Regions from separate parts of the Homo sapiens genome. Here all the other regions are linked to region 2. The links come from fine-mapping of genetic effects on gene expression. A gene starts in region 2. Each other region holds a variant in brackets. All regions are shown on one strand. Distances are between the middles of the regions.

Region 1 (5,231 bases), 44 kb before region 2:
CTCAGTTCCCTTCCCTCCCTGTTTCTCTCAGCCAGCTTCCATTACCCTACGTTCAACTCTCATATCCTGCCCTCTGCACAGGTGGCGCTTACCCAGAAAAGCACATCAGGCCACTTGAATTTTGATGCCTCTCTAGAATGCCTATGATCTCATTTAGAGGGCCCTGGATCTTTGAAGGCAAAAGTCTATCCATTTAAACCATGAAACTTTCCGTTTGAGTTTGACCTGAAACTGATGTCCAGTGGCTGCATTGAGAGCATTAACCAAATGGAGCACCATGAGCAGCCATTACTTGGGGTAAGGTGAATATGACCCTAAGAAGAATTCCTTTCTGCCAGAAAAAGGCAACAGAGTAGTAAAATGCCACGGAATGCATCTGGAACTTTCCTGTATAATCTCTTCAGTGCATGCTGTGGTGAGAAGGAAACTTTGGGATCTTGTTCAATCAACCCATTTCTTTTAGAGATGAGAAAACTGATAGCCTGAGCAGAGAAATGTTCAGTCCATAACATCCAGGTAATCGGAGACCTGAGACTTATGATTTACTTTTTGTTTAAACTTTTATTGCTACCCCCATAGAAACTTTAAAAGTAACAACTTACCCTCTGGTGCTTCAGTACACATACGTTCTTGAACAAGTGTGAAAACATCTTTCAGTTTGTCAAAATTATCTACATAGATAGTATTGTTTTTATTCCCTGCCATACCCTCAAGTTCCTTTTGGTTGGCCTTTCCTACACCCACTGCAAAGATGGTGATGCCTTTGTTTCTCAGTTCCAATGCTGTGTCATTGAGCTGATCATGGTCATGGGATTCCCCATCGGTGATGACAATCAGCATCTGCTTCACATTTTGCTTGATGCGGCTGCCATGTTCCTCTGTAAACAGGGCATTTGCGTGCTTGAGAGCCTTGGCAGTGTAGGTGTTCCCTCCAGTGTCCCTGCGCTTCCGCAGATTCTCAATTATTGCTGATCTGTTCGAGTATGTATTAAGGTAGAAAAGGATGTTAGGTTGGTCAGAGTATTTGAGGGCTCCAAACTGAACTCGGTCCCTGCCAACATCTGCTTTCTTCACCAAATGGATAGTTAGGTTAATCATGTGATCTTGATATTGTTTTTTTATGCTACCTGAATGATCCAGCACAAACACAACGTCTAGTAGTGTAATCCTTTTACAATCTGAAAGAAGATGAAAACAGGAGTCACAAACTTTCTGCAGTGCATTCTACGCAGGGTGCTGAGAAGGGAAGCGAACTGGCATTTGCCATGAGCCTACTATGTGTCAGACACTATATCTCACTTAGTTCTTAGAGGTGGCTGCTGCCATTTTACAGAAAAAAAAAGTCAAGGCTCAGAGAAGTGCAACTTGCCTACATCATGACTCCAAAGACATTTGTACCCTATCTATATCACTCCAGGTTTGCTGGTCCTTATGCCACACCACTCTATTTTGATATATCTCATTAGGACATGTAATGTCTTTTGCTAAGCAGGCTTTCAACTGAAAGGCAACGTTAGAAGCTAGTTCCATGCCAATGTAATGGCGAGATATACTGATGTTTGCCAAACTGGCCTGCTATTTCGAAAAGCTCAGGAGCTCACTGTATAAGTTGGTAGTTTTACCCTACTCCCTCTGGCTCCAGGTATCTTTGGACCCTCGGGTATGCAAACCATCCCTGTTTATCATGTCTCTCTGCAGTTATTTATGCTTTTTCCCCTAACCTTTTGAATTAGAACTCAGAAAGAAGTGGCCCCAAGTAGGAGGAGAGCAAAAACTCCTATCACCTTTTCCCTGACCCCAAACCCTCCTCCACATTGTAAGACAAATGACTGTTTTGGCTGGCTTTCCAAAGTGTGGACTCTTTCCCCACTCTTTTCCTTCCCTCAATAACTTATGCACATGTATTCCAAAGATTGGCTTTCTCCACTTTCCACCTGCCTAGCTAATTGTCAACTCTTATTTCTAATAATAAAGTCTCAAATTTTTAATTTTCTGACACTGTGAATGTCCCCAGGCTGTATCTGTAAAAACCTTGGTCAATGACCCACTGAGAACTGGTGACTAGTCATGACCTGATACTTAGGAGACAATCTAATGCATGAGTCAGCTGAATTTCAGGTTATGCTGTAGACAGGGCCTCCACATTTACATTAATCAAAATGAAGAAATGCCAAGAAGAGCCTTGCAGGTTTCAAAGTTGAAGCTATAGCCTTTAGGTACACCTCTCAACATTATCAAGAGTTTTGGAATCACTGCCATCTTTGGGGGAAGAAGAAAATTCCAATTAAGCTGTTACCAAGGAAACTTTAGAACTATCACCTAACA[C/T]TTAAGTGTTTATAAGACATTATGTTAAGTTTCTGAAAATTCCACATGCATAATTTTGACGAATAAAGTCCAATGAAAATCTCTATGTTGCCACAGGAACAACACAAAACAAACTTACTTGGGTTTGTTTTCTTAGTTGTATCCAAAACACAGAAAATAGCACATGATAGATTTAAAAACATAGGTGTTTTAGTCTATGTGTGGATTGAGAGAAAGCTCTCATTCAAAAGACATTAAAATTGATAGGCTCAAACTGAAGGTTGCACAATACAATTTTAAAAGCACTACAATTTGTAAGAATAAAATGATGACCCCAAGTAATCAGAAAAGTGACAAATTACAATTTTTCAAAGGGATGGATACACGAACAGGCAAATATAAAATATCCAGTTGATAGAGGTTAAGAATAATAATGTGAAGTAATGAAAATAAACTATCTTTAAAATACCCAGGGTTTTCTTGGTGGGTGGTGCTTAGGATACTAGATATAATTTAACTAAAAGAAAGACGAATTTGTATTTCTAGTTATTTTCTGCTTAACAATGGTCATAGATAGCCAAGAAACAATTCTAGAAAATCATTTGGGATTAAAAACTGGCTCTGGAAAATCCAGGCATGTGGGTATTAAAGATTTGTAAGTTTAAAGTAAAATTCTGGGATCTTTTTGGAACATATTTGAAGTCACCAATGCCATACTAACTTGTGCCAAACTAGATGCCAAAATTGTTAGTCTGAAACATTCCTGGAGGTCACAGGCATTTTAATATTACATAAAGAAGACCAAAACTTAACACTGAAGTCCAGGTGGAGGTCAGGGCCAGAGTGCCATTCACTGTTTCTCATTATAAAGTCAACAGCTCACATCCTTTAGTCCTGACAGATAACAGGGACACTTACCATGGAGAGCACACACACGAAAGATAAGTTTCCTTTCTAGTGCCTTTAGATGATCGAAGTTCTCAACATGAAAAACTAGGCTGCTATCCCCACTGATCTCTTCTAGCTGAGATCTATTGGCATTGTATACTCCTACAGAGAAGATGGTCACATCTTTGCCCCGAAGAATTCTAGCAGGATCTCTCACATCATCCTGCGCTACTCCATCTGTGATGAGGATGAGAAATTTTTTGGCCCCCAAACGGGCCCCCTTGGAGTGGGTGAAGTATTGACCTACAAAATTTAGTGCCTTTCCAGTTAAAGTGCCTTCATTGATGAGAGACATTCTATCTATTGCATCAGAAATTTCTTGCTGTGTAAAATATCTATTAAGCTGGAACTCTTCCTTAGTTTTATCACTGAACTGAACAACACCAATCTGGGTTTTGTCTGCACCAATTTGAATTTTAGTTAACAGGTTTTTCATGAAGATTTTCATTTTCCTAAAATTTTCATTTCCTATACTCCAAGAACTGTCCACCAGAAACATGATGTCGGCCTTCATGTCTTCACATCCTGCATGTTATAAAAAAAAAGACCAGAAATAACCAGGTTGGAAAGGTTCTCATGAAGTAACATTAAGGCAGAAACAAATGCATTAATGAGAAAACATTGAAAATTAACTCAGGCAACTGTTGTTATGTTTGAAAATTGTATTTGCTTCTTTAGTAGAAGCTGGTTGACTAGAACCTTGAATCAGAAATGCAGCTTCCAAAATGTGTATTTATTCATGCATGCATGCATGCATGCATAACTCATTTATTCATATTTCTTTCATTCATTCAATCATAATTTTGAGTTGTATAAAATGCCAGGCATCCAGCCATGTGTTAAAGATGCAGTAGTGATACAAAAAAGGAACCAGAGCCAAAGCAATCAATTCCTTGCACTCATAGTACTAACACTCCAGGGTTTTATGTATATTCTGGAGAAACACAATTTCAAATAATTTTTAAATAGCATTATTTTCTGGGATAATTCTAAGTGATTTCATAAACACTATAAATCAATATTAGAAATTGGAGAAAAAGTTTTTACTAGAGATAAGTGCTTCAGTAAGCATATACTCATTCAACATGGACTGTTCCTTTATACATAATATTTGTAGACAGCCTACTGATTGGAAATGAACATACAGACATACGTATATATATATATACATATATATACACACATATGTATGTTCATTGTTCTATGTATAATATAGACATATGTACACATATAAAACCAATTTCTATAATCTATTAAAAACAATATTATTAATTCATGATACATATGTTGTGTATATATATAATATGCAAATATATTGTCTTTAGCATGTATCTTTTTAGTCTTAATCCCTTTTGTCTATCTGTAATCTCTGCCATCCTCTTACAGTTTCTCCCTCAACATTCTGAAGTCTATCCCATACTTCTTGAAAATAAACATAGCATCAGCCATATATTAAAAAAATGAAAAGATGTTAACTATTACTTAATAAACGTGTAAGGTCACATTCTGATCCACCAGGAGGACTACACCACCATTTTAAGATTCAAGCTGCCATGGAACCATCTTGAAAGTCATGAGAGGAGAAATTGCTGAAGATGTTTGTGGCCTTGACAGAGTGGCCTTGACCACTGTAGTGAAGTGTGAAAGATTCTCTTCCATGTAACACATATAAAAGAAATAGGCTTCTACATACAGTTTAGTATTCACAGGATCTACTTCCTGGTATCTATTTGTGACAGAAACTACTTAATGTCCCTGAATATCTATCTTTCCATTCTTCTATGTTAATAAAATTTTAGATAGGCAGATGATTGCCCATCTAAAGATTGTATTTCCCAGCCTTCCTTGAAGCTAGCTGTGGCCTTGTGTCTAAGTTTTAACCAAAAGGTATGAGAAAAAAGTGATCTGGCCACTTCTGGGTCTTACCATTAAAACAGTTGAGTGTGGTAGGCTCCCTTGGTCCTTTCTCCCTTTCCATG
Region 2 (5,231 bases):
ACACCGCATGTTGTCACTCATAAGTGGGAGTTGAACAATGAGAACACCTGGACACAGGGAGGGGAACATCACACACCAGGGCCTGTCAGGGAGTTGGGGGAAAGGGAAGGGAGAGCATTAGGACAAATGCCTAATGCATGTGGGGCTTAAAACCTAGATGATGGGTTGATAGGTGCAGTAAACCACCATGGCACATGTATACCTATGTAACAAACCTGCATGTTCAGCACATGTATCTCAGAACTTAAAGTAAAATTAAAAATAAAAAAGAATGGTTCCTTGGAGAATGGCAAGTGGCAATGGTTGTGGGTAGTGAGTTGTGTGCATGTTAGGGAATAGGCCAGAGGAATTTAGGGAAGTATCATAAAGCACCAGGGATTGATGGGGCAACAAAAATGTTTGCAACTGCCACATGCACCACCAGTCAGCCCTTCCTCATAAAGTAGGCATGCATCTCGTTTTATCTTAGATCCCAACTTTGCCCAGTGCCCAACTCCTCTTCCTTTGCACTTTCCACTTGCTCAGTGTGTACTGGATCTGAGATCCTACAAGATTGACAGGGGCATCATCAAAGCAAACTGCAATACCAAGAAAAGTACACATTCCAAGTGAATTTGTGCCCTCCACTCTCAGAGCTGGAGGATTCTGAGTATATGCTCCGGGGTTGAAAATTCTTCCTTTTTGGAAGATGATTTGAACTTGAGGAAGGAAAATCACAACATGAAATACAATGCAAACAAGACATATGTGTCAGCCTTACACTTCATTATAGAAGGATGCTAAGCATATGCTCATTGAATACTTATGAACAATTTCTGCATGTAGCTATGATTCAAGATGGGAAATATTTACAGTGGCAAACTTTATTTTCACAGGCTCATAACATTGCTAGCAATGGCTCCCAATTTTACTGACATTTCCAAAGTTCTTTTCAAACAGAGAGGTGATTAGTTTTTGAAATCTGTGAAAAAGCCTTTTAGATGTTTTAACTTAATATATATATATAAAATAATTAAATATAAAATCATTGTATTGAATGTTTTCTATGCTTTAACATATTAATAATAGTTCAATATCATAACCACACAGGGTCCTCCGGGGAACTACTTTAAGATAATGCTAGCAGGTTCCCTATCAAAACCTTACATCCTGCACCCACCCATTGAAGAAAAGGGAAAACTGAGAAATATCTGCAAATAAATTTGCTCCAGAGTCTCCAAGTAAGTCAGCAGTGGATTTAGATTTCATATTTTAAGTTAAGCCACTGAAAGGAGAATAATAATAACAACACAAAACCATTCATTCGTCATCAAAGATTAATGGCTCAGGTTCTCAGCAGTGATGAAGAGCCTGCCTCATCTGAAGGAGTTATTTAAAAACTTGGGAATTATCTTCTCTACTTTAATTCATATGAAATCTCAGGATTCCTACTTATTCTATTGGTAAATTGTAGCACTGTAAACTTAAATAGAAAAAATGGAAAAAAATCTTGCAGTGTGAATTTTTTCTTAAGGATTTTTGTTCAGAATTCACAAAGTAAATATATATCTTCCAAGATACCTAACCTGACACCCTGAGTTAACAATGATTAATTTCAGAACAAGCAGTTGAATACCAAAAAACAAAATAAATGTGATGTATGAAGCACTACATCAACTTATGAAGATCCTGGTAAGAGAAATAACACGCTACCAGCTTGGGGATCCTGAGAGTACAAAATTCCCTCCAGCACTTTGAAAGAACCTTACCTGGAGACTTGCACACAGTACAAACTCAGAAATAGTTGTTGAAGCTCTGAGTGCTGTTCTTAGGAAATCTCAAAGATCACAGTTTCGTTTGGGACAGAATAGAATTCCCACAAACCAAGAGTGTTTAGAAGTTATTTTTATAACTGAATACACCCCAGTATCTAATGCCTTTGACTCATTACCTACACACCCATTGCTGTTTATTTGGGGGTTCCTGCATTGGGGCTAGGGGCTCAAATGTAGGACTAAGTGACTTCTAAGGCAATGGTTCTCAAACTTTAGCTGCATCAGAATCCCGTGGAGGATTGTTAAAATACACATTCCTTATCCCCATTCCCAGAGATTCTGGTTCAACAGGGTTTTGTGGGGTCCAGGAATTTGCATTTCTAACAAGTTTCAAGGGCAAGGCGATGCTATTAGTCCTTGCATCACACTTCGGATAGCACTGCTCTAAGGTCCTTTCGAATTCTGAGTCTACCTTTCAGAACCTGTCTTAACCATCTGTAAAATTCCTTAGAGCTCAGATTTGGGGGCGTCAACAGGTGCAAATCACCAGAAAGGAGAATCCTTCTCACATCCACCTGTCTACTCGAGGTTTCCTCCCCCGCCTGCCTCAGGCCCCAAGTCCCCGCACCGCATACTTACCCAGCTTTCCCGGGGTCAGGGGACACTCCGGACCCTGGAAACCGCCCCCAACTCTCCAGAAGAGGCTGCACCGAGCTCCTGAGCGCAGTAAACGCGCGCCTCTCGGGCGCCCGCGGCGCAGTTGGATAGAGCGCGCGCCGGAAGCCCTGGTCCGCGCCGCACGCCCTGGTCCGCGCCGCACAGCTGCAGGTGGATTCCCGCAGCGAACGCCTCGTGCCCTGAGAGGGTCTTTTAAGCCGGCGCTGACCCGTGCCCTTGGCCTGGCTCTTCCCTGGGGCTTTTAACTCTTCACAAGTTTTAATGTGAGTGTCCAGAGACGCTCCAGCTGTTTGCTGGCTTTGTTTCAGAGAAGCCGCCGGCTGCCAAATGAACTTAGGGAGTCAGAATTTCTCAGAAACCAAGGGCAATCTTTACTAGCAGCCGAGCTGCGGTCACTTCTACTACTTAGACAGAGGAATCGCCATTTGGCTCCAAGTCCCCCAATTTCTCAGAGGCAGCCTCCCAACGAAAATGCCCAAGGAGGAGCAAAGTCCTGGGGGAAGCCCTACAAGAGAAAAAGTAACGCACCCCTGATGCTAGAGGCAGCAGGAGTTTTATCCAGCAACTTCTAGAAAGGGCAGGATGGGGAAATGGAGCAGGCAACACAATGAAGTTGTGATTTTTAGTACATGGATCATAGTGAAGAACTTGGAAAGCATAGACTATTCTTACATGCATGGCTTATTTTTTGTTGGTTTGCATGGACGTGTACTCAGGTTGAGATTTTATATTACATATCTGTATAACACCTGCCAGTAAATGTACTCCTAGCTTGAGTGGTTAAGTTCAATCAATCCATTGCTTCAGCCTGCTAGCTTCTTCAGGCTGTCTGTGAAGAGATATGTTACAATTACTTACACTGATGAAAGTTTATTAAAATGTCAAGAGGAAACATAAGACATGGGAGCTCACCCTTGCTCAGCAAGAACCCGATTCTGAGATTGCTTCTGAAGTTAACTAGAAAGTTTCTAAATATGTGTTAGAAAGAGTGGGTTGGAAGAATGAAGAGAGGGAAGTGTAATGAGGACTTTCAGGATTTTCTCCTTTTATTATTAAATTTTTTTTTTTCAAAGAGAACACAAATATGTGTAAACCAAAAACTGTTTGTTTTTTTTGTTGTTTTTCATTAATAAGAAAAAACTGATGTAAGTTGAAAATGGTTTTTCTAAAAAAAAAGTGTATTTTATCTATTTTGAATTCACTTGGAATAGTCAGGGTTATGGGGTGTTCTGCACAGAACATCCTGAAATCCTGGATTTGAATGCCAAGACTTGCCCTTCGGTATCAGTGAGTCTCAGATTTGTCCAGGTTTTAACGGAAAATGTTCCATTGGTCACCAGAGTGAAGCACAGAGAGAATCTATGGGCTGGAATATCAAGAAGCTAGAGTCTGGGGGGACAAAATATACATCTATTTCACATTCATGCCTGGCCCAGGCCGAAATTTTGCTACTATGATGTCCACATACCCTCAGTGTGTAAAGATTTATTAATTGAGATGTTCTTCCCCAACCAAGAGTAATGCCCCAAGGGAGAAAGAAGGCCTACTTTATACTTCAGGAGAAGGGTGGGGTTTTGCCTTCACAATTAGGGTAATATCCAAATAGTACTGAAGCCAAAAGGAAGTTGTGGGTTTGTGTTTTGGGGGTTCTTTTGTTGTTTAGAAACTTCTCTAGAAAGTATTATTGTAGAAATTTTTTTACTTGCAATATATTTGTGATTTAACTTTCACAATCATGAAATAAAAGTGGCTCCAGGAATCTACAACTTTTCCACAGATTTTAACATTTCCTTTCCTTTCTTCTGCTTATAAAATTGAAACAAGGTTTTCCCAAAATAAATCATAATGTGAAATTTATTCACTATTTAGAATTGCATTTATTCTATTAAGGATATATTAACTTAATTTACTTCAGAAAGTAGAAGTTTGGAGTTTAATATCTGAAGGAATTCAGGCACTAAAAGTGCCAACTTTTCAATTTTCTAACAGAATAGAACACAATTGAACTTACTTTATCTGACTTGGGTTTCACTTTCCATTTTCTCTAGAAAATAAAAAGATATTGAATAAAAGAAAAGTAATCCAGAATTTCAAAAGTGTGGAAAAGACATTAAATTTTTTTTCAGGCTTCATCATTAGTTATATTTGCCTTTTATTAACCCAACCTTCATAATCTGTATTTCTGCAGCTGTTTTAAATAAGAAGATAACATCAGAGTAAAAGATAGCAAATTCTGCTCTACCCTGCACTCGTTGATTCCCACTGGGAAATATTGATGGTATGTCTGCAAATGTGAAAACCGTACTATCAGAAATAGGCAAGATGATTTTGGATGTGAGATGATTTAAATGGAATATGATTAACTTTCTCATTGATGCAATCAGAACTATTAAAAGATAAAATAGCATTTTTCTTACATGTGACTCAATGTCCTTTGGTCATGCCTATATACCAACAGATAAAAAGTTAACAATTAAAATGCATTATCGATAACTGAAGCCAAATACTTTCCTCTCTGTGTACTAAATAATATTGGAATATAGTATACTTTACTTTCTCTATGTTTAAGCCATGCCGAAAATAAGCAAAAATGACTTAGCTACTTGCTTTAAGAAATACTTGCTCCTAATGGACAAGGCTGTGACTAATCAAAGTGGCTTACTTATCTATATCAACCAGCTTGCTCTAGAAGACTTGTTTCAACTCCTTCATCTCCCCGTGTCCAACAATTTAAAGCTATCATGTCACGAACTCTGCCAAACCCAAAGAGTTTTCCGTCTTGCAAAACCCACCTGAAAT
Region 3 (5,231 bases), 170 kb before region 2:
GGTACACAGACCATTTGACATACTGTGGTATTGTTTTATAACAAACAGTAATAGCCAAATATGACTGTGACTTGCTTATGATCTTCAAAGTTCTATTGTATTTGGAAGCATATAATGGAGAATTTTAGTCAGAATTTCTTACCAAACATTAATCAAGTTGTTTTTAACGGACTAAATAAGTGATTAGCTTATGGTTTTTCAAGCCAACACAAATGCCTTTGCCAACTAACTCTGGCAAAATCTTTCCCCTCTAAAGTGTAGGATACAGTACTTAGAGCAATACAAAAATATTTTAGAGTCAAATCAATGTTCACATCCTTAACTGTAAATGGTTTTAAAATGGTTACATGTATATTTATTTGTGCCTTTGTGACTTAAGGAGAATACTGAGGTTTACATTTGCAAGACTAAGTTGGTTTGTATATTCTATTCTTCTTCCCTCCCCTCTACCAGTTGAGCATTTGGGGAAAAATTTTCTCATCATTCCAAAATTAAATGAGTACATCTCCTTAGACTTGTTCTTCGGGACTGTTAAATGCATTAGTTTTTAGGGTTATGTCAGTCAATCAAAATAGCTCATAAAGATAAGATTTAGAGTCAGTAGTGATAGACCAGGTGTTTTAGTAAGACTGAACTTCAGAAGTAGAGACACAAAGATGATACTGCCTCCTTTATCTTGTCCCGAGATTTTTCACGTTAGGAATTTTCCCTGAGATTTTGCATGTTATTGGATTTTCAAAGTGCAACTGCTACAGCTTTACATGAGATGCATAATTTAGCCAGAATTTTGAAATTTTAAGTCCTTCACTTACCAAATATTACTGAATACCTACTAAGTGCTAGGTATTGTGGGAAGCATTAGGGATACAAGAGACACAAAAGATCTTTTCTTCTGTACATGACTTATATTAGCTAATGGTATCTATTTTTATGTGGTAATCTCCTCTAAATTTCCATGCCAAGGCCTTGGGGTCACCTCAAGAAAAAACCAGTTTTGGAAGGAGGGCGAGGAAACAGAAGAGGAATTGAGAATAAGATTCAGTTATTTTTTCATTTAGAAAGGTCGGCCTTTAGTCACTATTTTGTAAAGGATCATTTATGCCTTTTAAATTCCTTTGAAAAACTTAGCGTAGCTTTTGGTAACTGCTTTAAAATTCAGAAAATCTAAATATAATACTCTTCTGCTGAAAGTAGAAAGACATTTTTATTATTGCAAAAGCATTAGCTAAAGAAATTAAAACACTGAGTGCACTTTTAAAAGCCTCCTACCTGCAGGCATAATTTGACCCTCACGGAAAAGTCTCCTCAAATGCTAAAGCCTAAGATATGAAGAAATTTGTAGTAAAAGCAAAACAGCCACAATCCTCAAACATCTCTTCCAGGATAGCAGCATGCCAGAGTGACAGGCCCTAAATGATCTCCATGATCTCTACAAACTAGAACACTTCCAAGGAGATTACAATGTTTGGCGGATCATTCGTTCCTGTTAATCATGTATTACATTCCATGGAAACAAAGTATTTGAGTGAGGTCAGAACACAGGATAAAATTGGGCTCAATAGTAACTAAATTATTGGAAACAATTCTATTTGCCTGATCTAATGATGATGATGGCTTTACCACCACCATCGCCATCACCATTGTCCTCATTTATTGAGCACTTGTGCTTGGCATTTTACGAAGATCTTGTTTTTTTCCCCATACACCCCTGTGAGGTAGGTAGATATCACTGCCCTATGTGACAGGTGACAAGAATAAGACTCAGAGAGGTAACTGCATTGTTTGAGTTTGTCTATAACTTGAATCTAGACCTGTTGGAGAGCAAAGCTAATCTACCTTATACTTTAAATAACGACAATAAGGTCAGGAAAGGAAAAAAAATAATTTTGGCCAACAATCATCCTGGAAAAGTCATGTTCATGAATCTTTTAGAAGCATAAGAAGAAGCATAGAAAATCTAATCTTCCTACTTATTTCTTAGGACTGTAGGAATGAGTATTCTTAGATTACAACACATAATCATTAGTCTGGATCACTTTTATATATTTGCAGGGGGTCTAGCTCACAAACCCATATTTTT[G/T]AGGAATTCCAGGGTCAGCGGATATTTACTGACAGAGAAGTTCTTTTTAGTCATTTTTAAGACCATTGTATTAGTGGGACTTTATAGTGTACTAAGTATAGAGATTATTAAATAAGGCACCAATTTTTATTCATAATTTTTACAACCTGATCTTCATTTGGTGACTTAATTAGATGCTCTTGATACTGTCTATACAAATAAATAAATATTTTCTGCAAAATATTCAAAATACTGAAACTTTCTGAAATTCAGACTATCTGAAGGGAATGGAAAAAATGAAAATTGCAAGTATTTATATTCAACAATAGTATTTCCGGAGAATTGGTTCACAAAAAATTTAGCAAAATTAAATTTTTTAAATTACTAAAATATAAAAGCCAAAGATGATTCTCCAATGAATGCTTAACCTAACATCTTTCATGAACATTATAAAATTTGATTTCACATGGCACAACATCCAAAACACACCTTCTTTTGAGGCACGGTATTTTTTTTCTCCTTCTTTTTCTCTCCTCTGCACTTCTAATATTTTGGAATAAAATGAGGGAGAAATTGCTGTAATCCCAGCACTTTGGGAGGCTGAGGCGGGCGGATCACCTAAGGTCAGGAGTTCGAGACCAACCTGACCAAAATGGAGAAACCCCGTCTCTACTAAAAATACAAAATTAGCCGGGCATGGTGGCTCATGCCTGTAATCCCAGCTACTCGCGAGGCTGAGGCAGGAGAATCGCTTGAACCCGGGAGGCGGAGGTTGCGATGAGCTGAGATGGCGCATTGCACTCCAGCCCCGGCAACAAGAGAGAAACTCCGTCTCAAAAAAAAGGAGAAATTAATTGACAACCTCTTTTATAAAGACAAGAACTATTAAGGCTGTGTATTTTAAAGAACATTATTTAGAAGTTTCAGGATTTTTATGTAAGTGACTTCCTCTATGAAGACACTGAACAATAAATTTAACATTGAACATTTTATATTAAAAATACTACTCATTAAATAGATTAGTTTAGAAAAAGTAACATGACTGCTGAATTCTGTAACTATAGAATTCTTAACAGAAAACTGCTGTTATCCTTCCTGCCACAAGTGTTAGGATTTTTACTGTCTCAGATATTCCTAATCACCGTCACCACCCCTCTCTCCTATCACCCCCACACCCATCCACTGGCAAAAGGTCCTCTTTAAATATATCCATAGAGTAGACTTTTAACAAGAGAATGAGAAATCCTTGTCACAAAAGGACAAAAAAGAAAAGAAAATCACTTCCTAGTTTTAACATTTTTTTTCCTCTTCCAGCCTGCCTCCTCTCCTCTTCAAAATTACTTGCATGGTTGATACTGAGCCAGGTAATTGGGGTTCCGCTCAGAGTAGAATGTTTCTGGGAATTGAGAAAAGGGTGCATTTTCTCTGCTTTCCTTCCTCCCCTCAGACAGCAGTAAAAGTCCAACCCTCTTTAATAAATTTGTGTGAAGTGCAAGAACAAAAGTACAGACTGGGAATGTACAGGCTTGGGAGTGACTTTTCCTGACTCACCCTGATTAACTCCATTCATTTGTTTCCGAGAGTGGTCCACTGTACATGCCACTCGCCAGGCCCTGTGCTGTGAGGACACAGTGTTGGGTGACGCACCTCTCAGGAGGCGCCCTGGTGCGCGGTGGGAGACGCGGAGATGGGAGCAGAGAATGACAAGAGTGTGCTGTAGGTTCTTCAACAGTCGGATGCGAAAAATTAAAAGAAAGACGAGGTGAGGGCAGTTACTCTTGTTTGGAGGAGGAGAAAAGCCAAAGGAGGAGTTTTTGAGCTTCTGAAATTCACTTATTTCCCTCCACCGCAGTCTTTCTCATGCAGCCTCCTCTATTCTGGCCGGTCCCTCCCATCCAACTACTGATCACTTGTAAACCTAGTTTTGGCTCTTGCTGTCCCAGCGTTGGCTCCTGGACTTACCTTGGGGAAACTTCCATGCAGCCCCCAGCCCTGCACTTCGAAAGCCCGGGGCGGATTTCCTCTGGACGCGCACTGCGCGGGCAGGGCGCACCGCGGGGAGCGCAGAGTTTGGTGCCGCCTGCGGCGCGCGGGGAGACGGTGGAGACCTCGGAACCGTGGAACGGACAGGCAGCGGCGTGGGCAGCCTCTTGACTCCGGTGTCCCGCAGGCAAGCGGGTGGCAGCTCCCACGCCCCTCGCCGACATATAAACGCTTCTCCCCGCCCCGGGCCCGACCCTTCCCCGCCCCGGCGGCCCCGGGCCCAGCGCACGTCCCCCAGGAGGGGGGCGCAGCCTTAGGGAGGTGACGGAAGCGGGACTGGAGACATTATGAAGGCTGTTACTGCTCCACCGGCTTCTCCCCTCTTGAAACTCCTACCCTAAGGTCCCGACCGTGGGAGAAAAGAAAGAGGGGAAGTTGGGGCTTTCATGGTACGCGCCTTCTCTGTACCCCAAAGATAGGCAGGGCGTGCAGATCCGAGGCGCACTGAAGGCAGTAGCTCTGCTCCTACCGTTGGAACTGTTGTTCTTTGGCGGCTTTGCCTGTATTCTGGGGTCTTCTGGCAGAAGGCAGGATCTAGCAAGGGAGCCAGAGAGAGTCTTTGGGTTGTAGAAACTCCTCCCTTTTCCGTGGGAACGAAGACCGTGAGATTAAGGTCCAGAGCCACCACCTCATCCCACCCTCAACGCCCCCTACCTCCCCAGTTTCCCTACTCTCTGGTCCGAATTCAGGAGTCCCAAGGAGAATATCCTTGACTCTTTGTCTACTGACCTTTTTCTCTTCTCGCTATCTGTCCATTCACTCATCTATCTATTTTTTGTTGTTGTTGATTCCACAAATATTTGAGCACCTACTATGCACTACTATCAGATGCTTGGGGTAAAAAAAAAACAGCAAAGTCGACACCTTAGCTCACAGTTTGGTTAGGGAGATAGACAAGGAAACAAAAAGCAGTGTGGCAATTGCTGAATGGGGAAATGATGCCATAGGAACCCAGAAGAGGGGATCCCAACTCAACCTTGGAAGGCCAAAAGAAGCTTCTCTGAGGTAATTAAGTCCAAACTGAAATCCAAAGATGGAGCTAGACAGAAAAGCATGGAAAAGAGGGTCTCAGGCAAATGGAAGAGCAGCAGGGAAGAGAGAGGGAGCACTGACTTCTCCAGAGTAGCCA

Evidence for each region. PIP is the estimated chance that this variant, and not a neighbour inherited with it, causes the effect. A credible set is the group of variants that fine-mapping cannot tell apart.
Region 1: its variant is the best candidate, but not a certain one, in a credible set for the expression of COL6A5 in testis (GTEx, PIP 0.75).
Region 3: its variant is the best candidate, but not a certain one, in a credible set for the expression of COL6A5 in lung (TOPMed, PIP 0.70).

Annotation. Positions count from the first base shown.
Region 1 is chr3:130,387,126-130,392,356 of GRCh38, reverse strand. It overlaps COL6A5 (collagen type VI alpha 5 chain), which reads right to left. Exons shown (of 41, transcript NM_001278298.2): 6 at 3,223-3,777; 7 at 603-1,178. Among named protein-coding and RNA genes, the nearest start is that of COL6A5, 44 kb to the right of the region's middle. The variant C/T (reference allele first, on the strand shown) is at 2,326.
Region 2 is chr3:130,343,144-130,348,374 of GRCh38, reverse strand. It overlaps COL6A5 (collagen type VI alpha 5 chain), which reads right to left and starts at 2,703. Exons shown (of 41, transcript NM_001278298.2): 1 at 2,394-2,703.
Region 3 is chr3:130,516,188-130,521,418 of GRCh38, reverse strand. COL6A6 (collagen type VI alpha 6 chain) reads right to left here and starts at 4,242. Exons shown (of 37, transcript NM_001102608.3): 1 at 4,022-4,242. The variant G/T (reference allele first, on the strand shown) is at 2,081.